Homo sapiens: one gene and its partners. The protein of the gene in region 1 interacts with the protein of each later gene in a biochemical or structural test. Each region holds a gene or a part of one and is shown in the gene's direction. Other genes may lie near its edges.

Evidence for each region.
Region 2: the proteins of PPARG (region 1) and NCOA4 form a complex in vitro, tested with the Homo sapiens proteins (2 studies listed by BioGRID, with this or other methods).
Region 3: the proteins of PPARG (region 1) and NR0B1 form a complex in vitro, tested with the Homo sapiens proteins (2 studies listed by BioGRID, with this or other methods).
Region 4: the proteins of PPARG (region 1) and TRIM24 interact in a test that uses a peptide from one of them, tested with the Homo sapiens proteins (2 studies listed by BioGRID).

Annotation. Positions count from the first base shown.
Region 1 is NC_000003.12:12,411,042-12,418,079, forward strand, and holds part of PPARG (peroxisome proliferator-activated receptor gamma), read left to right. Parts: intron 1-5,662; coding exon 5,663-6,113; intron 6,114-7,038. UniProt on the Homo sapiens protein: Nuclear receptor that binds peroxisome proliferators such as hypolipidemic drugs and fatty acids.
Region 2 is NC_000010.11:46,027,601-46,035,436, reverse strand, and holds the start of NCOA4 (nuclear receptor coactivator 4), read left to right. Parts: upstream 1-4,813; 5' UTR 4,814-4,911; intron 4,912-7,836. Other genes in the region: MSMB (beta-microseminoprotein isoform a precursor), read left to right, coding at 1,886-2,015. UniProt on the Homo sapiens protein: Cargo receptor for the autophagic turnover of the iron-binding ferritin complex, playing a central role in iron homeostasis. Acts as an adapter for delivery of ferritin to lysosomes and autophagic degradation of ferritin, a process named ferritinophagy.
Region 3 is NC_000023.11:30,303,688-30,306,410, reverse strand, and holds the end of NR0B1 (nuclear receptor subfamily 0 group B member 1), read left to right. Parts: intron 1-1,587; coding exon 1,588-1,832; 3' UTR 1,833-2,205; downstream 2,206-2,723. UniProt on the Homo sapiens protein: Nuclear receptor that lacks a DNA-binding domain and acts as a corepressor that inhibits the transcriptional activity of other nuclear receptors through heterodimeric interactions.
Region 4 is NC_000007.14:138,575,230-138,582,267, forward strand, and holds part of TRIM24 (transcription intermediary factor 1-alpha), read left to right. Parts: intron 1-1,143; coding exon 1,144-1,216; intron 1,217-2,190; coding exon 2,191-2,359; intron 2,360-3,974; coding exon 3,975-4,303; intron 4,304-5,332; coding exon 5,333-5,465; intron 5,466-6,467; coding exon 6,468-6,542; intron 6,543-7,038. UniProt on the Homo sapiens protein: Transcriptional coactivator that interacts with numerous nuclear receptors and coactivators and modulates the transcription of target genes.

The DNA of each region.
Region 1 (7,038 bases):
TGGGATCATTCATCCATGTATCAATATTAATAAAATAAATTCTTCTATTGCCAGGACTGTCAGGAATAGCTAAAGATGTAAAAGATCTAAACCAGTGTGTTCTTTCAGAGAATAAGTTAAAAATAATATTTTATAGAGTTAAAAAGAAAAGCACTTGGATTTTTTTTTTCCAATGGCTGGACTCAGTTGGCCAATACCCTTGTTTGCCTGCTGAGTAACTCTTTGGCTGGCAATTGATTTTTTTAAGAGCTGTGGTTATGTGCTAGTTCATTAGCATGTGAATAATTCTTCATATTAAGTTTTCATTTGTTTGTCGTAAATCTCTAAACCCTGCAGGAAAGCAGAATATCTTTGACAGCTTTCAAACTTCACTTCTATCACACACAGCACTCCACCAGCACCTCTAGGAAACAGTGGTTCAAAAGGCCCTGCCCCAAGACCCCAGCATGTTAAGAGCGTTAGTTTAAAATCTCCAGTTCATCCTAGAACAATCATTTTAAAAGGAAAAAAAGAAGTGGGGAAGTCCTATAGAAAGCAATGGAAAGGGAAAAGTTCTCAACCCAGAATCGGGGCTTAGGTTCTAGTTCCTGGTTTGCTATAAATGGCACTTTGACTTTGGAATGTCTCTGGCTTCCGTTTATCCATTAGTCAGAGAATGATGGGACAGATTACTTCTGAAGACCCCTTATGTCCTATAAATCTCATAGTTCTCAACAAGAGGGAAACGGGAACAACAGGGGCAGAAACCAACGAGAGGCTGAGGAAACCAAACCAATGAGTTTTGGATTGTAGCTAACCGAGGAGAACCAGGTGTGTCAAAGGTGATGAAAGTCAGATGTGTAAAAAGCAAGAAGGAAACAAAATGAAGAACATGAGCCCTAAGAATTCAGTGTCTTTCCCTGGTAAAACTAAGAACATCAGGAAAGCCACACTCGATGAGGCACACATTTTTCCAAGCCAGTTTTCACTCTGACAGGGTTACCTCAAGTGATTGTTTGAGAGAGGGTAGAGGGGTTGACTACACTCATTCAATCTGCCAAATTAGAAAAGTCACCCAGAATACCCTGTGCTTTTTGAGTGATTTTCATGTTTATCTCCCGTAGCTTGCTATTTTGTTATTCAAAAGGAGTGTAAACTTAGGGCATTCATGTATAATACCTTTCATAACTCATGTTAAAATGCTGATGTTATTGGATTTCTCAGGAACACTACTGTTCTATTTCTCCATTCAAAAAGGTAAAAAAAAAATTAATTACTCTATTTTCATCATTAATCCCATTTCCCCCATTGTCTTTGTATTCTACATAGGAAGCATGCCATAGATCTATAATTGAATTTACTCATCTATATAAAACAGTACTTTTAATCCCATCCTGAAAATCAAAATATATTTTTGAAAATCAAAATATGTCAAAATTGAAAATCAAAATGTCAAAATATTGAAAATTGAAATATATCAAAATTAATTATATTTGATGTATCCCTCAAAAAATTGATTTCTCCTTACAGAAATCATTTTGCTTTCCTGGAAAAACACTGGGTTCAAGTGCAGCTTTCTTCATTCCGTTCTGGTCTGTCCAGTATATGAAAAGCACAAGCACACAATGACCAGTGACAGATTCACCATGAAGCTAATGAAGCTTCATGGGGCCCTTCCCTTGTGCAGAAGTCCTTCCAGTGCTTGGGGAAGGGCCGAAGCAATTTTATTCTCATAATTTGTAATATTTTCCTTAGAGAGACTCCACTACTGTGTATATTTTATGCCCCACAAAACCTGAATTCACCCCATCATGTCCCATTTGTAATTAAGCTTTCTTTCCTGTTAAGGAGGGACGCTTACCCAGCCCTTTGATGTACGGTCTGAAGATAAATACACTGTTAGCCCCCAACTAGAAGTGTAAAATCATTAAGACAAAATTTGAGAATGATACGGCTCCTATAATGGCAATCTTTGGATGATACTGTCCAAGCTGATGGAAAGTGTAAGGACTCCACTTTGCTTTGTAAAAAATACAAAAAAACAGCCATGGAAGTGCAGTACATTTTGTATGGAACATTGTACCACATTGTACCAAATGTCATGTTAAATTAATGATTCAAGATAAAATGCAGACCAAATTTGACCAGGGTTTTAAGAGGTTCTCTCTCCATAAAGCAGGCTGGCCACGATCTTCTCACTAGGTTTGAGGGTAAGGAGGTCCCCTGTGAAATATGAAAGTGAACTCTCTGCTATCTAAGAATTGGTGAATTGGTTGCAAAGAAAGGCAGACCAGGCCCACCCAGGGATCACTCTTGCAGTTTGACAGATCTACCTGGAGGCTGAAAGAATCTATGCAGCCTTCGGAAATGCAGTGAAAACAGTATAATCAGATATGACTAGGGAAAAAATAAAACAACTGGTGTTCATTTGCATGTCAACACCCAGAATTCTCTGCTAGTTCACCTCTTCTTCAGAATGCAGAAAGGATTGAAAAAGCTGGAATGGGGCCGGGCATGGTGGCTCATGCCTGTAATCCCATCACTTTGTGAGGCAGAGGTGGGTGGATCACCTGAGGCCAGGAGTTCAAGACCAGCCTGGCCAACATGGTGAAACCCCGTCTATACTAAAAAATAAAAAAATTTAAAAAAAATTGCCGGGCGTGGTGGTGGGTGCCTGTAATCCCAGCTACTCTGGAGGCTGAGGAGAATCACTTGAACCCAGGAGGTGGAGGTTGCAGTGAGCCTAGATTGCGCCATTGCACTCCAGCCTGGGCAACAGGAGCAAAACTCCATCTCAAAAAAAAAAAAAAAAAAAAATGAAATGGTTTGGCATGATGGTGGGGTGCTGATTCCTCTCTCTGTCCTTGAGTATTTACTGCCAGGAAATCCTGACCAACATCAATTGCCAAGGGGTTAAAGTCACATTGTTGTTAAATTGGGAGAGAAAATTAGCAGGATTTTGTGCCCTATGTTCAACTATTACAGAGTTTCAAAAACAGGAACCTGGAGCTTTATATGAGGGGACAGGGGAAGTAAAGGGGAAGAGTGACAAGGGTGATTTATCAGGGCATAGTTCCAGATAAATCACTTACATGGAGGTGAAAGAATTTCATGCATATGTTCTGTGCCAAGAAGCCAAATGGTTGAGCAGAAGCTCTGAAAGTTGAAGTGGGCAGTTCTGGGTACAGTCTTTCCACATGTGAAAAGGTGATGATTTTATATTCATGTTATTTGTACTCCTGCATGTGCAGTTGGTCTTTTCAGGTGTCCAGATCATCATTTTCTCATGACATGAAAGAAAGCCAATAAAGGCTAGTTGTGGTGGCTCACACCTGTAATCCTAGCACGCACTTAGGGAGGCCAAAGCAGGACGATCACTTGAGCCCAGGAGTTCAAGACCAGCCCAGGCAACATACATAGCAAGACCTCATCTCAAAAAATGAAATAATTTTTTTTTAGAAAAAGAAAGTAAATATTTCATTAATATAAATTATAATACACTGTAAAATGCCTGGAGGACAAGAAACACGTTTTCTCTAGGTTCTGTGAAAGCATCATTATCCATTCACATTTTTCTCATAATTAGAACCTGACGTTCTGGAAAAATACAGTAAATTTTCATCGATGTTACTTGCTCTGCCCCCCTTGTATTCCTCCCATTAATAATATTAATCCTGAAAAGAAAAAAAGAAAAAGGAAAGAAACCACCCAAGCAAAATGTTTAAGAAATACGGTAAGGACAGTTTGGTCCCAATTTCCTTAAAAATTAGAGCCACCAAGTAAACCTGTTTGGGGGTCCTCACATCTGTCCTCTTTTGGAGTTTGCTAAGTAGTACAGTTGAAGTGAATTTTTTGGTAACAAAAGTAAAAACTTCCAGAATAACTCCAGTAAAGGGTGTTGATGTGACGTACAAGTTTGGAAATATATTTAATATCTGAGACTCCTCAATGTTGGTGTTATTTCCTCCAGTTTAGAACAAACTTAATCTTTTGATGAAAATCATAGAGTTCCATAGATATGAATAGAATCTCCAACCAGTGCATCTTGAAGCCGGCTGCCACGGCCACTCATGCACCTTCTCTCCTTTCAGGAGAGAATTGTCAGCATCTCTGCTCAAAACAATCTTTACTTTTAGTCCATCAGAGACTTCATGTTTGTCGTGCATGCACACTCACACCTCTCCACACATATGCCCACTCCCCACACACATCCTGCTTCTGAGAAATGCAACTAGAATTTCCTCCGGAGAAGAGATGGAAACCCCTGATTGAGAAATTTAAGGCCTAGGAAAGGTAAATGACTTTTCTTAAGTCACATGGCTCACCACAGAACCAAAGCTGGAACACACATACCCTCAGCTCTTCTTCCAGTGCTTTCAGGTATACAAGTATTTGAACAGGATTCAAGGTTTAACTCCTTATGTGTCATTCAGTGTATCCAGTGTAAGTAAAATGTTACCCCTTAGTCAGAACAGCCTTGAGAATTTCTCAATGACTACAAACCTTGCTTAGTTCTATACAAGGGAAGTAAAAGAGAGAGAATGTCATGACCAAATGACTTAACTTTTGAAGGCAGCCTATTGCAAACTTGAATAATTGGGGCATGTATTTTATTGATTGTTTGACCTATAAGGACAGATATTTTAAAATATAAATTCAAAATTGCTTTTTTGCAGCATTCACCTGTAGGCCTTCTATATCTGCTCTTTGTGAAATAGATGGCTTCCAGAGCATTAAAAAAAGAAATAGACATTTTCTTGGTTCAAGAGCTGTAATCTGCTTTCCGAGTGATTTTTCATAGTTAAGCATATTTTATGTGCACATAGTTTCATTTGAGATCTGAGAGGATTTCATCTAAAACGGAAAAGTTATTACCTGTGAAGGAGAACAAAGGAAAAGGAAAAAGAAATTTTAAGAAAAAAAAATTTTTTTAAACCTGTAGTTACTTTATGTTCAAGTGGGTATTTTCAACGCTGAGTTGCTGAAATGGTTTTTTATTGAAAGAAGGTTAAAAGTGTATTTCATTGAAAGCCAAGATAAACAGTAGATTTTGTATCATTTTAAAAATCAACAATCGGCCGGGTGTGGTGGCTCATGCCTGTAATCCCAGCCCTTTGGGAGGCCAAGGCAGGCAGATCACTTGAGGCCAGGAGTTCAAGACCAGCCTGGCCAACATGGTGAAACCCCATCTCTACTAAAAATACAAAAATCAGCTGGGTGTGGCAGTGCATGCCAGTAATCCCAGCTACCCAGGAGGCTGAGGCACAAGAATTGCTTGAACCTGGGAGGTGGAGGTTGCAGTGAGCCCTGATTGTGCCACTGTAATTCAGTCTGGGCGCAGAGTGAGACTCTGTCTCAAAAACAAACAAACAAATAATATAAAAATCAACAATGAAGACTCCCCAAACAAAAGAAATCAGGATTCTTAGCCAGTCATAGGTAAAGTGTTACAGTGTAAATTGAAGGGAAAGAAGACCAAAATTGGTGAAATATGTTTGGTCCCAGAAGATAATTAAGATGAATAAAAGAACTTGAGAGTATTTTCTCATTATTAAGCATCTTCAGCTTTAAAGATTTTAGTTAGCAAAGCAAGTTTACATAAACAGTTTTCTGAACCTGGGATGGCATTCACTGTGAGTTAGAAATCTCCAAGTCATCCACGTTTTCCCTGTTTTATTTGCAGCCATTCGTTATCTATGACATGAATTCCTTAATGATGGGAGAAGATAAAATCAAGTTCAAACACATCACCCCCCTGCAGGAGCAGAGCAAAGAGGTGGCCATCCGCATCTTTCAGGGCTGCCAGTTTCGCTCCGTGGAGGCTGTGCAGGAGATCACAGAGTATGCCAAAAGCATTCCTGGTTTTGTAAATCTTGACTTGAACGACCAAGTAACTCTCCTCAAATATGGAGTCCACGAGATCATTTACACAATGCTGGCCTCCTTGATGAATAAAGATGGGGTTCTCATATCCGAGGGCCAAGGCTTCATGACAAGGGAGTTTCTAAAGAGCCTGCGAAAGCCTTTTGGTGACTTTATGGAGCCCAAGTTTGAGTTTGCTGTGAAGTTCAATGCACTGGAATTAGATGACAGCGACTTGGCAATATTTATTGCTGTCATTATTCTCAGTGGAGGTAAGATTTGTCTTTTGATCTTCTATGAAAGAGGGTGGGATGATGGTGGGGTGGCCAAAAGAATTTTGGATTTCCTTAGTGTTAGTCTGCATTGTCACTTTAAGTGCCAGTGGCATGATGCCATGAATCATCACTACACGTGCAAAACACTGTACCAAGAAAGAGTGTCATAGGTTTGCGGTGTGAAGGTTATAAGTAACCCAGGATCTTCTCTTTCATCCCTCAACAATATATTTTTTCCAGTCAAATGCCCTCTTCTCCTTTTTCTTTTTCTTTTCTTTTCTTTGTCTCTTTCTTTTCCTTCCAGAAAGGAAGATTAGAGGCCAGTCTAATCTTTGGTTCCTGTAAGTAATGGCATGTATAACTTTGCTTAAGACAATGCTCACTTGATGTAGAGAAGGGACCACTAAGTATTTCTGGTCAAATCATGCTCCTGCCCCACCATCAGTAAGATACTACTTTGAATTGCTTTTGTGATATCAGGAATTAAGGAATACCTACTGACCTCCACCCACTCTCTTGTGTGGATTCCTCTGATGGCTTCCCTTAAAGTACCTTTGTGAGGTAGTTGGTTGTGATTAAGAATGCAATGTGAACCGAACACACAACATAGAAATAAATTTAGTTATTTAGCAATTTGTTGTATTTTTGGCCCTGCAAGTAGTACATGATCTGACTAACCAATTCCAAAAGCCAGATTTTCTTCTGAGTGTGACTTTTTTCTTTTTTTTTTCTTTTTTTTTTTTCCTTTTTTTTTTTTTTTTTTTTTTTGTGAGACAGGGCCTCACTCTGTCACCCAGACTGAAGTGCAGTTGCACAGTCATAGCTCACTGCAGCTTCTAACTGCAGTTAGTAAGCTATGATCATGCTACTTCATAAAAGTAATACGTGGCCATTTTACAGTTGGGCTCAAGTGATTCTCCCA
Region 2 (7,836 bases), on another chromosome or scaffold:
TTTTGCTTATCCATTTATTTGTTGAACACTTGAGTTGCTTCTGCCTGTTGGATAAAGTAAGTAATGTTGTTCTGAACATTGGCATACAGTGTTTGTCAATATACAAACATTGGCATATAATGTTTGAGTCCCTGCTTTCAATTCTTTTGGGATATATACCCAGGAGTAGCTTTCTGGGTCATATGGTAATTTTTTGTTTAACTTATTGAGGAGCTGCCAAGCTGTTTTCCACAGCAGCTGCACCATTTTACATTCCTACCAGCCAGCAATCACCTTTAAACATGAAAAACATGAAAGGTTTTAAATGATATTTCCCAATTTTCTAAGTAAACATATGAATTATAGAATCATTGGGAAGCATAAGAGAAAAAAGAAGAAATACCTACTCATAATCCCAACTGTGTAAAGGTAATAACTATTAACATTCTATTTTTATTTATTTATTTATTTGTATTAAAAAAATTAAGACAGGGTCTCACTATGTTGCCCAAGCTGGTCTCAAACTCCTGGGATCAAGCTGTTGTCTCACCTCAGCCCCAAGTAGCTGGGATTACAGGCATGTGCCACCATGCCTGGGCTTCTATCATCATTTATTTTCTTTTTTTTTTTTTTGAGATGGAATCTTGCTCTGTCGCCCAGGATGGAGTGCAGTGGTGTGATCTCTGCTCACTGCAAGCTCCGCCTCCTGGGTTCACGCCATTCTCCTGTCTCAGCCTCCTGAGTAGCTGGGACTACAGGCGCCTGCAACCACGCCCGGCTAATTTTTTGTATTTTTAGTGGAGACGGGGTTTCACCGGTTTAGCCAGGATGGTCTCGATCTCCTGACCTCGTGATCCGCCCGCCTCGGCCTCCCAAGGTGCTGGGATTACAGGCGTGAGACACAGCGCCCGGCCCTATCATCATTTCTTTATGTCTCTTTTCTATATGTTTTTTCTTTTACATAGTGGATATCAAATTTTATATCACAGTTTTGTGGGCTGATTTTTCCACTTAATATTCTAGCACTGGGCTGGGCATGGTGTCTCACGCCTGTAATCCCAGCACTTTGGGAGGACAAGGTGGGTGGATCATTTGAGGTCAGGAGTTCGAGACCTGCCTGGCCAACATGGTGAGACCTCCCCCGCGCCGACCCGCCATCTCTACTAAAAATATAAAAATTAGCTGGGTGTAGTGGTGTGCTCCTGTAATCCCAGCTACTCAAGAGGCTGAGGCAGGAGAATCGCTTAAACCTGGGAGACGGAGGCTGAAGTGAGCTGAGATCGTGCCACTGCACTCCATCCTGGGTGACAGAGTGAAATTCATCTCAAAAAATTAAAGTAATAATAGTAATAATACATAAATATTCTAGCATTAGTATCATCTCATCTCATCAGAACTCTTCAAAATATTTGTATGTACTGCAGCTCAATTAGAGGTGGTCTCTGACTTTCATCAGCTTCTCCCTGGGCTCCATGACACTGGCCTGGAGTGACTCATTGCTCTGGTTGGTTGAGAGAGCTCCTTTGCCAACAGGCCTCCAAGTCAGGGCTGGGATTTGTTTCCTTTCCACATTCTAGCAACAATATGCTGGCCACTTCCTGAACAGGGAGGGTGGGAGGAGCCAGCATGGAACAAGCTGCCACTTTCTAGAGTAGCCAGACTTGCCCCTGGGCCTGTCAGCACCTACTGATGACCTTCTGTGCCTGCAGGATGGAATGTAGGGGTGAGCTGTGTGACTCTATGGTACAGACTGGTCCAGGTTCCTGGAGGTCACACTCTGGGGCTGCCAGCCAAAGGGTGCCCTTAAGTTGGAGTGTGGGTGACTTCCTGAACAGAGCTGGCACTGGGGAGGGGGTGCTCGGGGTCCTTTCTCTTCTAACAGGCCCCAGTTTTGTCTCAATGACAGTGTTTCTACACCTGTGGGTTATGACAAAGACAACTGCCAAAGAATCTTCAAGAAGGAGGACTGCAAGTATATCGTGGTGGAGAAGAAGGACCCAAAAAAGACCTGTTCTGTCAGTGAATGGATAATCTAATGTGCTTCTAGTAGGCACAGGGCTCCCAGGCCAGGCCTCATTCTCCTCTGGCCTCTAATAGTCAATGATTGTGTAGCCATGCCTATCAGTAAAAAGATTTTTGAGCAAACACTTGAATATGTGTGTCCTTTTAATTTATAATTTATGTATGCATTGATTTAATACACATTATAAAGAATACAAAACATTTAAAAAGGGAGACAAAACTACATATGAATGGCCGGGCACAGTGGCTCATGCCTATAATCCCAGCACTTTGGGAGGCCAAGGCAGGCGGATCATTTGAGGTCAGGGGATCGAGAACAGCCTGGCCAACATAGTGAAACCCCGTCTCCACTGAAATACAAAATTAGCGTGGTGGCAGGCACCTGTAGTCCCAGCTACTCGGGAGGCTGAGGCAGGAGAATCACTTGAACCCGGGAGGCGGAGGTTGCAGTGAGCCAAGATCACATCAGTGCACTCCAGCCTGGGTGACAGAGTGAGACTCCGTCTCAAAAAACAAGCAAACAAACAAACAAACCCAAACCCAAACAAAACAAAACAAAACAAAATACATATGAATAAAAGTTCTATTTTTCCTAAACTCTATAATAGGTCATTGTGCATCCCTTACTCAGGGGACCACTGCCACTCTTACTGTTTCTGATGTCTGCACTCTGCTGCCCGTGTCCTGCTGTCTGGTGAACGATGAAAAAAATGTGTGTCTTCAAGCTGGAATTAGATCCCTTCTTTTCTTTACGGTGTTCCTGTTTATCCCTCCTTCCTCTTCATCAGGAAGTGTCTTCTATGATGTGTCCCCCACATTCCTCTGTGTTTGCTTGAGGTCAAAGCAGCTTAGAACAAGAAACAGCTTAGAACAAGCCTGTAAAACAGCTTAGAACAAGCCTGAAGAAAGTGCCCCCAAGACCACATGCAGCCCGAGGGGAATTAAAGGCCAGGGGCTCTGCCTTGCAGATGGAGAGTGGCCTGGGTGCAAGGCCCCAGCATCAGCTACCTCTTGCTACACACAGACCACCGAAAACTTAGTGGCTTAAGACAACGACAACATTGATTCTCTTTTAACTGTTTCTGTGTTAAAGAACATCTGTTCACTCAACAGGTCTGTACTGAGCACCTGGGCCAGGCAGTGCTCTAGACCTGGGGATACAGCAGTGAACCAGAGAGATTTCAGGAGAGAACCCTGTTCTCCTGGGGCTTGGACTCAGCTGTGTGTACGTGACAGATCAGAAATGAGCAAACAGTCATCTGTTGAACAATCAGTGGGCAACTGATAAAGAGCTTTATTTTCCCCTGTCCCCTATCTGTTTAAACATGCTATGTGGGCCAGTTGAGCAATCTAGACAGGTCCCTTAGCTTTCTTGTTCACCTTCAGATAATTTAAAAAAGTGGTCTGAGTTACATTTTGAGTTACACAAAGTCTCATTCCAGGGGCTGCATCTGAATTGAGAGGGAATGGGGGACAGGAGAGTTAAGGGCTCCTTCTGCCTGAGGTCATGTTCTAGGCTGACTTCCTCATGGGACTTTTGTGGGCTTCTCTCTCCACAGCTCCCCTTCCACTCACAGCCTATGACTGTTATCTTAGCTTCTGCATCGTAATCTATGTCTCCTATTGTTTTCTAATGAGGTTGCCTTGCCCCTTGTAGCAGAGTCACTCTTGGATGAGATCCATAAAACCCTGCTATGATCACCTCCTTTGCTGCGGAATGTGGGGAAGCAGTTGGCAACTGAGTATGGAGGACCTCTGTCAAAACTGAGACAGAAAGAAGTGCTATTTAACATCTAGTCACAAGTAAATAATGTGGGTTATAATCTGGGCTGTAGGCTGGACGTGGTGGCTCATGCTTGTAATCCTAGATCAGGTGGGAGGATCGCTTGTGCCCAGGACTTTGAGACCAGTCTGGGTAACACAGCAAGACCCTGTCTCTACAAAAAAATTTAAAAACCGGGCATCATGGCGCATGTCTGTAATCCCAGCTACTCAGCAGGTTGAGGCAGGAGAATCGCTTGAACACAGGAGGCAGAGGTTACAGCAAGCCGAGATTGCGCCACTGCGCCTGAGCGACAGAGTCAGACCCTGTCTCAAAGAAAAAAGAAAAGAAAAAAAGAATCTGGGTTCTGCCATTTATTTATTTACTCAATTTTTTTTTTTTTTTTTTTTGAGACGGAGTCTTGCTCTGTCGCCCGGGCTGGAGTGCAGTGGAGCGATCTCGGCTCACTGCAACCTCTGCCTCCCAGGTTCAGGCAGTTCTGCCTCAGCCTCCCGAATAGCTGAGGCTATACGCGCGAGCCACCACGCCTGGCTAATTTTTTTGTATTTTTAGTAGAGAAGGAGTTTCACCGTGTTAGCCAGGATGCTCTCCATCTTCCGACCTCGTGATTCGCCCGCCTCGGCCCCCAACGTGCTGGGATTACAGGCGTGAGCCACTGCTCCCGGCCTATTAACTCAATCCTTAGAAAAACAAATGTGGCAAAGGTGGAATCATACAACATATGGCCTTTTGTGTCTTACGATATTCATTTTTGCATCTGAATGTTCAAACTAAATAATATCTACCTTGTGAGGCCATCTGAATCACTTAGGATGGTCCTTGGCACCAAATTTGCCTTCAAAAAAGCATTTGCTTCATTTAATTTCGATTTATTCACGAAGGACTAAAGGACACTGCAAGGGCGGGGAGGGAGTGTGCGCCTGCGCTCTGCGCCTCCTAGAGGGCAGTCAAGGGCTTCTGGCTGACCCGAGCGGAGATCTCGCGAGACTGTCAGACGTATGGCGAGAGGTGTGGGAGGAAGATTGTGTTGTCGCGAGAACTCTGCCTTTGGGCCGTAGGTTAGTGTGGGGCCGTGTCTCAGTCCACCCAAGGTCTCCTCGGATCGCCTGGAGAGGCACTCGGACCTGGTAAGAACGCTGTGGGCCGGGTGGAGGCTCGATGACCGCTGGCCCGCTGGGCCCGGGCTTGTCCGCCCCTTCCCGACCCGACCGACACCGGGACCGGTCTGCCTTCTCCTTCCCTTCCCTCCCCTCCACACGCCAGGCCCGGGCACCTCTTCCTGCCTGCCCGCCGGGCCCGGGCCTGTCTTCTCCCCTTCCGGCCACACGCCGGGCCCGGGCCTACGTTCTCGCCTTCCCGCCACACGCCGGGCCCGGGCTTGTCTTTTCCTCCCCGACCCTCCTCGTGCCCGGCCGTGGGCCTGTCCTTTCCTCCCCGACCCTCCTCACACCCGGCTCGGACACCTCCTGCTCCCCGCCGGCCTTCCCCTCTCTTTAGGTGTGACAGCTCCAAGTTTCCTGTTTCTCTCGCCTCTTGCTTGGATGTGGGGCGAGGCGAGGTCTGTTTTGCCGGACGGGCACAGAACATAATCCATTTCTAGCTTGTCAGGTGGAAATGCAAAGAAGATATTGGGTTTTTTTGGCCCTCTGTGTGCCAAACACATACTGTCACATTTAATTCTCCCAATAATCCCGAAAAGTAGCTTGATTATCTCTGTTTTACAGCTGAGAAGAGTAAGGCTTGCTCATTCATTGGTTCATTCCACCAGCAATCATTTATTTGGTGCCTGTATGTTCAGGATGTTGAGGATAGCAATGAAAAAAATGGACACCTAATTCTCATGGAACTAAATTCTTGTTGTGGGGAAAACAATAATCATAATCTTACGTGGCACGGGATTTAACATGGAATGATGCCATCAAGAATGGCAGAAGTAGAATGACAGAAGTCAGAGTGCTGAATTTATCTGACCCCAAAGGCAGAGCTTTTTTACTTTTAACTGTGCCTTTTTGTGTCACTTTCTAATCAGGGTCGGGTTCACCACAGTAATTGCCTTTTGGATGGACTTAGCTTTCCACCACGCACTTGGTAATTTGGAACTAAGTTTATAGAGACTCTTGAGTTACTTATTGGAATGAGGATGGCACAGGAAGTCATAGTTGGCCCATTTTTATACCGAGATCCTAGTGTGACATTTCCAAACTTTAAAGTACTTGAGACCGTTTGAGAAAGACTTACCCTAAGGATGCAGTGGCTTAGGCAATTTACTTGGTTTTCTCATTTGAAGATTTGCTAGCTTGCAGATTTGTTCAGATAAGTAAATGAGATTATGTATGTAAAGTCCAGCACAATAACGTTCCTTTCATTTTCTCCTTTCCTGCCTTCCAGGGAGCCTTTGTCCTTGGGTCTCTAAGGAAAATCCTACTCTTTGAAAGTTTTGTGGTAGTTTTTATCTAAATAAATCTCTACAATTACATTATTACCTTTGTGCAAACAGGCATTTCGGAAATGGAAAAACATGTTGAGCTATGGAAGGGGAGGAAGATGTCCTTCTCAAAGGGAGAGAAGATATTTTAGAACTACATAGTACCCCTCACCCCCCCCTTTTTTTTTTTTTTATTAAATCAGTATAGCTGTGCCAGAATCTCAGGATCCGGTGTAGGGGTTTCATAAAACTCCATAGGATATCCTGACACATATCCCTCCCCCGGTTGAGAGTCCCTAAGTTAGTGTTTTATAATACTTTCCCTCACATAGTGTTAGCATTCAGAGCCAGTCATTGCTGCTGCTGATGGACTTTGAACTCAGTCTCTTATTTCAAAGAATTAGTATTTTCTGCTTGGTTGGTGAATCTATGACACGAGTTCTCCTCTAGGTGGCAAGCTCACCATTGTGTTCTCAGGGACTATCACAGTAGTGTCAGTTTAGGTACTCAATAAATAGTTGTTGGATGAATACATAATACCTTAATACTTAATGATTCCTTCAACATACCAGGTGTGGTTAGGGACTTTGGACTCAGATCTGGGATTAAATCTTGGCTCTTCTACTTGGGAGTTTGTGACTGTAGGTAATATATTTAACCTTGTCAAGTCTGCTTTTTTTTTTTTTTTAATTAATGGTGATGATAATAGCCACTTTAATGAGGGCTAATTGAGATAGTGAGTTTTTTAAAAAAAGGCTCGGCACATAGTAGACTAGATGTAAATACTTACTGAATTCATTTACTCAGTAATTAATTGTTGAACACCTACTATACAACAGTGAACAAAAAGACAAAGTCCCCGCCATGTGGAACTTACCTTCTAGTATGTTTTCTGAAGGGAGATCAGAAAATAAATGGTTGCTACGTGCCAGACTGTGGTTAGTACTATGGAGAGTAATAAAGCATATTAAGGGGGATTGGAGGCAAGACTTTTAAAAATAAAAGATGGTGAGGAATGGCCTCAATGAGAAGATGACCTCTGAGCAGACACCTGAAGGAAGTGAAGGCCTGGGCTCGAGGATACCTGGAGGAAAGCGCAAGGGCCCTGAGGCAGAAGCATCCTTGTTAAGCTAAAGGAGCAGCAGGAGGAGAAGAGTAAGGGTAGAGGGGAAGAGTAGGTAGCAGTCATGAGGTTTCTGCAAGAGTCCTGGAGAGAGATGATGGTAATGAAATTGATGAACTTTATGTCTTTCTTTGTTATATCCTGTTCTTTGACTAAAAGTAATAAAAATAGGTAATACTTCTATAGCTCTTAATGTGCATCAGGCACTATTTTAAGTGCTTTACATATATTAGTCATCAGATCTTTCCAAGAAAGTATACCTAGCCTCAGAAAATGAAGATTTGTCACTCTTTAGGATATACAGTGGAATGTGCTGCTGGTTCAGAGAGCACTTTCTCAAGCAGTACTGAAATCAGCAGTGAATTCACTGCCTCTGTTCACATACTGGTTAGGTTGCAAAGGCAAGCCTAAAGTGTCGATAACAGACCACCCAACCAGTATGTATGCATTGGGTTAAGTTCAGTTTCATGGAAGAACTGTAGAAGGCCATGGCATTTTTTATTA
Region 3 (2,723 bases), on another chromosome or scaffold:
AATTTAAATACATTATATATATAGGTTCAAACTTAAGGAGATATAAAACTGTGGAGTCCATTTGCATTTTCTCTTCCCTGACCTTATTTTGAAGGCCAGTTTGTGTGTCTCTGTGTGGGGGGGAACCACTTGGGTGGGGAGAAGGTGGAGGGGTATATTGTGAACACAGAGAAAAGTAATGTGGCATACACAAGATGAAGTTTTCACAAGCCATGAATCTAGACCTAGAGAAGCTTCAGATTTCTGGTGGAGTTTCATGCAAGCCTCTTCCTACTTTCATCGATGGAATTCAAACACAACAAAATTGGGTCTTAAGCCTGGATCTCAAGCTGTAGATAGAAGGGGATGATAATGTGTGGACTAGAGTAATCAGAACTGGAATATGGATTAAAATGGTTGCTTTATTTTTGTTCTTATTTATGAGATTTGATATTCGCCCATAATAGGAGTGCCTCTCGCTTATTACCATTATTATTTTTTTAAAGAACACTGGTTCTGCTGCTCTGTGATGATTGGCATGGTGCTTTTAAAATACTTTTCTGTTGAATTTTTTAGGAAAAGGGAAGGAAAATGATTGCAATCATCATTAACATCATTTAAACCAAGTGGTCAACTGCTAATTACTTGAATACAAGTTAAAGAACTTTGCAACGATATTATCATCATGGAAGATCAAAGGACCTTCAAAAGCAGCCTCCTCTTATTACTTTCCTTATAAAAACTTACATCCACTTAAACTTTCCTGCATTTATTTCTTTCACTTTTACTTCGGTATCACACTATACTGCAAAAGGTCATGTGTTTTCTATTACAAAAGTTATTCTTGAATCATGGTACAATTCGTGATGTTTTCATGTTTACTTTTTAAACTTTTAATGACTATAAGAATTTTCAAAAACTTCTTACTTTAATATTTTTGAAAAGAGCCTTTTTGAACACTCATTAGAATCATTCTTTTATTTTTTTCAAAATCTTCCCCAATACAGAAATCATGGTGCAATGAGCTAAGTGGCCAGTGTTAGCTTTCAAATTATTCGGGCCTCTAGACTAATATTGGCCTGCAGGCAAATAGGTAAAATGAAACTGTGCGTCAAAGTTTGTGGCTGTGAAGTTTACCACCATTGGCTGAACGATCAGTGTAATGATGGAAAGTTCAAAGAAGAATGGTAAAAACATTTGTCTCATGGCAACACTTCTTGTTTATCATGGCTTGTTTCTCATAGGTAAAGTGCCCACCTCTTGAAATATCATGAACTTCTTCATATTTGCATAGAAAGTGAACTGGAGTGATGATTCATTAAACCGTATTCTACTGTCATATTAAATTGTGTGCGTTTGTTGGCTCATGGCCAGTGTATTTGCAAACGTGTGCATAGAAACATAGTAAATATTAAGTAAGATCACATGATGTTTCATTCTTGGACACGTTGCTTCTGAAAACGTAGACTGGTTTGGCCTTTTACCCTTTTAACCGGGAAGCTTTGGGTCTTGTTTAATTGGGATGAAACAGAAATGGCTATTTTTAAAAAGCTAGCAAAGGACTCTGTGGTGAGCTGTTTTATAACAAAGAGATTTTTCTCCCTCCAGACGTGCCGGGCCTGCAGTGCGTGAAGTACATTCAGGGACTCCAGTGGGGAACTCAGCAAATACTCAGTGAACACACCAGGATGACGCACCAAGGGCCCCATGACAGATTCATCGAACTTAATAGTACCCTTTTCCTGCTGAGATTCATCAATGCCAATGTCATTGCTGAACTGTTCTTCAGGCCCATCATCGGCACAGTCAGCATGGATGATATGATGCTGGAAATGCTCTGTACAAAGATATAAAGTCATGTGGGCCACACAAGTGCAGTAGTGCAGTTCACCATGAGGGAAGAATAAAGAGCTGTGGGCAAAAGAGTGTAAAATATTTTAAAATAAACTTTCTTAATATTTTTACATGCAGAGTATTTTTGTATTCAATTAAAGAAATAATTTTATTCCAGACAGTCACAAATTTCTCTGTTCCATAGTTAAAGAAGACATTTGCCAACAGGTAGCATAGCTCTGTACATCTTTTAAAAAAAAAATAGCAGGGTACTAGTATAATAAGCTATTTTCACAAGTGTAGCAATTTCATGGAACCTGCTCAAATCAAATTTGTACATATTGTTATAATAAATTTTAAGGTCTTAACTATTAACTTGATTGAAAAAAGCTTCAGCAGGGTTTAAGTAAGGCCTCAAAAACTATTAAAACCTAGCCAACATAAGCAAAAAGTATCTTTGGAAGTAACAACATGACATTGAATGTAATTATGTGCCAGTATCAGTGGGAGGTCACTTTGCTCTATCTTCATTTCCACTTCCCTCAGCTGTATGGAAGACTGCGTTTGCATCCAACTGGAGTCAAGAAGCAATCTGTAATTATAAAGACATGCAGAAGTGAAAGAGGAGATTTTCTGTTTTATTGGGGGATCTTTTTGGTACACAGTTATGGATTTAAAGATCCACAAGGAACATACATTCTATAATGAGGGGTTATAGTTCCAGAAAGCTCAACATCATTATAAAACCACTAATTACACTTCATCTTTTAGATACATTACGTTTGTAACTGGTATATTGAACAACATGGCATGAAATCATAAAGCAACTTTATTGTTATCTCCTGCTGCCCCTTTAATTATAATCCATAGAACTAATTTTTCTTTGTGTCCAGATAAAATCAAGGCTACTA
Region 4 (7,038 bases), on another chromosome or scaffold:
TATATTTTTATAGTTTTCAACTATTCTAAAATGAAGCATGTATTCTTATATTATCAGGAGATTATAAATAGCCATTGTTTTGATTGATTTTGAGGCAGGGTCTCACTCTGTTGCCCAGGGTGTAGCAATCATGGTTCACTGCAGCCTCATACGCTTGGGCTCTAGTGATCCTCCTGCTTTAGCCTTCCCAGTAGTGGGGACTACAGGTAGGTGCCACCAGGCCTGGCTAATTTTTTTTTTTTTTTTTTTGGTTAGAGACGGGTCTTTGTTGTCCAGGCCTTTTATTTTTAAATTAAATTCTCCAGAGTTTACAAACCAATGAAATGATAATCTTCATTTTATCAGCCACATCCTGTTGTTCATCAAACCTTTTAGAACTTCTGTCAATTCGGAATTTTTTTTCTACTTCCCACTTTCATTGTATTCCTACTTGTTACTGTTTAGTTTGGGCCTTCATCAGTTCAAATCAATTATTTGCAACAGTTTTCCTTCTTTCTTGGCTGCTTTTAATTAGATCTTCCTTGTTCCAGTCTACACTACCACCAGAGCATAGCTTCTTAATCTTTTTAGGGCAGTAGTCCAGAATCCCTCTTTTGTTTATTGCCTTAAGTCTGAACCCATTGATCTTTCTGTGTCTTCCATTAGTTGGTTTAATTTTGTTTACTTGGTTTTCTTTTTTGAACTCCTTTTCTATCAGCCCGTACCACCTTTCGTTGTCTTCTGTAGCTTCCACTGGCACTAGGGTCTCACTGAGATCTTACCCCTGTTACTCTAACACAGAAAGACTTGGCAATGTTTGGAGATGTTTTTGATTGTCACACCCCAAGCTGGGAAGTATAGAGAGATGCCACTGGTATCTAATAATTGGTGGAGGCCAGGGATGTTGCTAAACATCCTGAAATGCAGAGACATTCCTCCACAACAAGGAATTATCTGGCCCAAAAGTCAATAGTGCAGAGGCTGAAAAACCCTGCCGGTGTAACAGGCTGTAACAGACTGCTGAAAATTCAGCAACTACTTACTGTTTCATAGAATTTCATCATGGTTCCCAGTTTCAATGTAGTGCTAAGTGAACACATTCAACAGGACTTCAATGCATAATTATTCATTCGTTTTATGAATGTATGGTTTCCCCCTCCTCAGGACCTGTTACTATGACTAGTGTACACCCCCCAATACGTTCACCTAGTGCCTCCAGCGTTGGAAGCCGAGGAAGGTAAACTGACTAAACCATATTTTCTAGTATATAAAAATCTCTAATTAGATTTCTTTTGCCAGTGTTCAACATGTTTTGATACTCAATATATTTTGAACAATTTCCTTTATTTTTAATTAAAATTTTAATAACTACTATATATTTTAATGAATTAGTTAAGGGATTAACAAAAGTACAAATTTACCTTTGAAGATAGAAGAATATTTGTCAATATGTTGAAAATAAGAAATGTTGGATATTCATATAATAGCAAAGAAAACATAAAAATGAATAGGCATAACACAGTACACTATATAGAAACACAAATTTAGAGAAAAGATAAAATTTTATGCTAATTTGATCTCTAATGACTAAATGTTGATTCTACTTTAAAATAAATATACAGTTATTGAAATTCTATATTTTAAGCAACTGCTCTCCTCTTCCCTGCATTATGCCTGAAAATTCCTCCTAGCTAGTGAACCCAGTTCTTACTTTATCATATGGAAGAATTGTCTGAGGGAGAAAAGTTTGCCTTTAATCCCATGAGAACATAGTGAATCTCTGTAAAAGCTTTTTGACCCACTACCTTCTTTAAATAGTATTGTGTAAATACATGATTATTTCATTGTCTTCACCAAAGTATTCACTTTGCTACTGACTAGAGAAGGAAATGAGAAAGCCTAAAATCAGATGCCAGTTCTAAGATACTAAATCTGGTTGCCTAATTGTAAAGCCTCAGGTTTTTAAAAGTTTAGGTTTATTGAAACATCTTTCTAGATATATAACTATTTAGATAGGTTAATATGTAAAACATTTTTATCATAAATGAAACTTGCATACACCAGTTTCATTTGTTATGCATCATTAATTGCTGATGTTAACATACTTATTGTTGTGAAGATACAGTATTTTAGAAAGTTGTTGTTATACTTTTTATGAGGTATTTAGCTTAACATTCTTAGATTGCTTTTTCTTCTCTCTCATACTTACAGCTCTGGCTCTTCCAGCAAACCAGCAGGAGCTGACTCTACACACAAAGTCCCAGTGGTCATGCTGGAGCCAATTCGAATAAAACAAGAAAACAGTGGACCACCGGAAAATTATGATTTCCCTGTTGTTATAGTGAAGCAAGAATCAGATGAAGAATCTAGGCCTCAAAATGTAATTATGAATGCTTGCAATGCTATTCCTATGCATGGTGGGTAGGGTGAGAGAATCTTTTAAATAGCTCTTAGGAGTTTTTTTTTAATGTTATATTTAAAAGGATTTAAAGACAATTTGAGGGAATCTCTCAGTAAATTAAACAAAAAGACAAAGATGGAAAAACAGGAAAGTTTTTAAAAATCAGAGGCTCAGATATGGAGGCTGGGCAGTTAAAAGGAGATATTCTTTCTTTAATCAGAGTTTTATACCCAGGCAAATTATCAATCAGATTGACTTGAAGATTAACTAAACATTTTCGTGCAAGTTCTCAAAATAATTCTTATGTACTCATTCTCAGGAAGATACTTGATAATATGAATCATCAAAAATATAGTAAAACAAGAAAGAAGACATAAGATTCCAAAAATGGAATCTGACACAGAAGAAAAAGGCAACCCCCAGTACAGCAGCAGCAGCAGCTTGTGCAGTAGTCTGTAGCAGGAAGACATAGGACTCCCAAGGGAGAAAAATGCTTCAACAGTATTGAGAATCTCCTGTTGGAGATTGTGAGAATAACATAGAAATAGGTACCTAGAAAGATAAGCAACTGAAAATATAAGGTAATTACAGAGTCTTAGTAAAAACAAAAAGTTGTACAAAAAATGTCTTAGTACATTTTGTGGGTCTGCAGTGAACAATATTTAAATAATAATAATAATGATGTAAACAAACACCTGAGTACGAATGTAACTAAAAACTGTGATGCAATCAGGATATAACCTGAATATGCACTTAACCAAAAATTGTGATTTTCAGAATACTTAACCAGTACAAGACAAATACTGATCAGTTAGAATAGATACTGGCAATAAACAGTTATACCAGTACCTACCAACTAAAACAATCAATGCTTAATCAAAACTAAGTTAAAGGGATGGGGTGAATGGTGGTGGTGGTGGTTTTGTGTGTGTGTGTGTGTGTGTGTGTGTGTGTGCGCGCACGCACGAATGGAAGCAGGACGGGGTTGGAGAATCAGAATGTAAAAACCTAATCTCCTGATCTTCACTAGTAAGGATTATAGATGTATTGCAATTTTTAACAATCATTTTATTTAGAAATATGGAGGTAAACAGCAGAAGAAAAAGCTAGGTTTGAAAATAGTTCTTCCAAGGAATAAGTGCTTTTAACTATATCTACATTTATTACTTTGAAATTTTTGAAAACATTTGAAGGAGATTGTTTTTGTTATTGATTTGAAATTTTCACCATCCTGGGCTTCAACAGAAAGTTTAGATTCATCTTATAATTTTTGTATCTTAGGTATAATTTGAATGAACAGCTCCAGTGAGGTATATATATATATATATAGGTCATGTGGTTGACTTCCACTCTACCCAACCCATTCTCTAATTTCTGTAGCCATCCCCAGACTTAGATTTTTTCTCTATTTATTTTGGTATTTTTTAGTAGAGGTTCATGTCTTCTAAGCCAGTTAGCAATAAACATATACCCTTCTCCTGAAGATTCCTTTGAAGCAGCCAGGTGCTCACCAGAGAGTGGTCTACAGTTCAGAATTGCATTAGTGATAAAATTTTTTTTAAAGCCAGTTAAATATATTTTTTTTCTACTACAGGCCAATTATCCAAGAAGCATACTCACCTCCCTGCTCTTAAATAGCAGTCAGAGCTCTACTTCTGAGGAGACTGTGCTAAGATCAGATGCCCCTGATAGTACAGGAGATCAACCTGGACTTCACCAGGACAATTCCTCAAATGGAAAGTCTGAATGGTTGGATCCTTCCCAGAAGTCACCTCTTCATGTTGGAGAGACAAGGAAAGAGGATGACCCCAATGAGGACTGGTGTGCAGTTTGTCAAAACGGAGGGGAACTCCTCTGCTGTGAAAAGTGCCCCAAAGTATTCCATCTTTCTTGTCATGTGCCCACATTGACAAATTTTCCAAGGTAAGATAGTACTTCCCTTCCCACATTCTTTTACTGTAAACTTTTGAAGATTATTTTAACAGAAAGCCTTTGAAAAAACTTAAATGAAATTCCACTTGGCACAAGTGTATACTCCAAAATCCCAATGAATAGTCTAGGTTTTCCCATACCCTTCCGCTTATTCTTTGTGCTTCTTTCAAAAAACTAATCATTCAGCCTGAGCAACACAGGGAGACCCTGTCTGTCTGTACAAAATAAAAAATTAGCCGGGTATGGTAGTGCATGCCTGTAGTCCCAGCTACTCAGGAGGCTGAGGTGGGAGGATTGGTTGAGCCTGAGAGGTCAAGGCTGCAGTAAGCTGTGCTTGCACCACTGCACCCCAGACTGGGCAACAGAGCAAGACCCTCTCCCTAGTCATTACAAAAAGAAAAAAAAATAACAGGCCCTTTAAATTATCACAAGGGATCATCATAAGGAACAATGTCCCTATGCATAACAGCTACCACAGTTTATTATGTCTTTTTGCCAGGCATCGAACTGTATCTTTTACAAGTATTTCAAGTAAATTCTCATACCCTATGGGGATGATGATCATCATCATGACCAAGATGGTTAAGAGCCATTGGGTTGATCTCTCAGTTCTTGGAAGGCCATACTTTTGAAAATTTAATTTTATAAACTTAAGAGTAACAAGAATAGTACAAAGAGCTTTTCTAGTTCCTGAATCCTTTGGAGGAAAAAAATTCAATTATGCCCTAGATATGTGAGCCCTAGATTAAATTTGTTTAGGTGTTTCTTTTTTTTCAATATATGTATCTCACACCTTCTTAACTAGATTTTGATGTTTGTTAGGCCCTTGCATTATATTTCTGCTGTTTCCTCTCAGCATGGTGCAGTATACCTAGTGGTATGTGGTAAATGCTCAGTGATTAAAATTCATGCCAAATGAACAATTCTGTATCATAGATGTCATGGAGGAGGTGGGAAAGGGAAATAGTGAAGAGAGGAAATGATGCATTAGGAATTCAAAAGTACATTGTCCCCTAACAGTGGAGAGTGGATTTGCACTTTCTGCCGAGACTTATCTAAACCAGAAGTTGAATATGATTGTGATGCTCCCAGTCACAACTCAGAAAAAAAGAAAACTGAAGGCCTTGTTAAGTTAACACCTATAGATAAAAGGGTAAGTCTTTGGTAAGATGCATTATTGTATTGTAGTGCAATATTGTACTGTGGTACCTTTTGTCAAAGAGGTGTATATCCATCCAGATTTTATACTGATCCTTTTTATTTAAGAGTATTTTTTTTTGTTTACAAAGGTACATGAATCTTAAAGACTGTAACTTTCTTTAAATTAAAAAAATCACAGAATTAATGCATGTATTTTATAGAAGCTTATTGTACCTGAACAAGATGGAATATGTACCCTAGACTTTTAATCTACCTTAAGTAAATTTCTATTTTGTTTTATTTCCTACTATAGATAAGATTTTTCCTTAGAACTGCCACCAAGGAGCTGGGTTTTTTCTTTACTCTTCCTGGAAATAATTCCTTTTTTTTCACTGAATGGGACTAGACTTATGCATCAAAGCCAACTGATATATTTAACTGTAAATAACATTTAAAGCTACCAAGTCAACACTTTGTTACCAAAAAAACTCCTTTGCTAAATTATTAAGTAGAACAGTCAATATGAAAGTTGTCATGCAAGAGGGGACGTGCCCATTCACTGCCAGTACTACTCAGTGGTTACTGGGATAAACCCATAAAGCAGGGAAGTATATGAATAGCAGAGCACATGGTTGGACCTTCGGCATGCAGAAAGGTGCCTTAGGTCTGGATGCATATTGAGAAGGTCCACCTCCAGTTCTCCTAAGAGACGTACGTTCTTCCTTTATAGACTATTACTAATTTATAATACACAGACTGGAGCAATAAGTGCAAATTTATTGTTAGAAAACTTCAAATGGTTTTCTAGTGATTGTCTTAGTTCATTCAATTACAGGGCCTGTTCCCAAATATTGGGAAGGAGAGCAAAACTCCGAGAATCAGTAATTTTTTTGTATTCATCTGGGTTTTAATTTTTAGTCTGACACTTTGGGACCTCTGAGATTGTTATTTAAAATAAGCTGTGAATTCATTGTTTTATAATATTTTATCTCAGTTTTTATTTATTTTTGCTTAGAAGTGTGAGCGCCTACTTTTATTTCTTTACTGCCATGAAATGAGCCTGGCTTTTCAAGACCCTGTTCCTCTAACTGTAAGTATTAATGTCATTTTCTGCATGTTTACACAGTGGAATGCTTTTCTGGAATTTTATGAGAATCTAGCTTATATTACCATTTTTCAGTACTTTTTAATATCTAAACCTTAAATCTTAATAATACATACTGAATGCTTTGATCCTATGTAGGTACATTTTAGTAAGTGGCCCAAAACTTCTGTTCATTTCTCAGGTATTCTTTCTTCTTTCTTTTCTCATCTATTTTACTTACCACTGGGATGTTTAGGGTGATTTCTGTTAATTTTCTGTATTTCAGGAGTTTTAGGCATGTTTCCGAAGCTGTTGGAAAAAAAACTTTGAAATAAAGACATCTCTCCCTGCTACATTTTCCGTACTTATTTTTCTTTATAGGTCCAGACTTCAAGTAAATAAGTAGACGTTACCAATACAAAAAAAGTTGAGGAAGTATGTGCGCAGGTGCTATTGACTTCAGAAAGGTTCATATTGAAAGTTTGATGTGACTGTGGCCGGG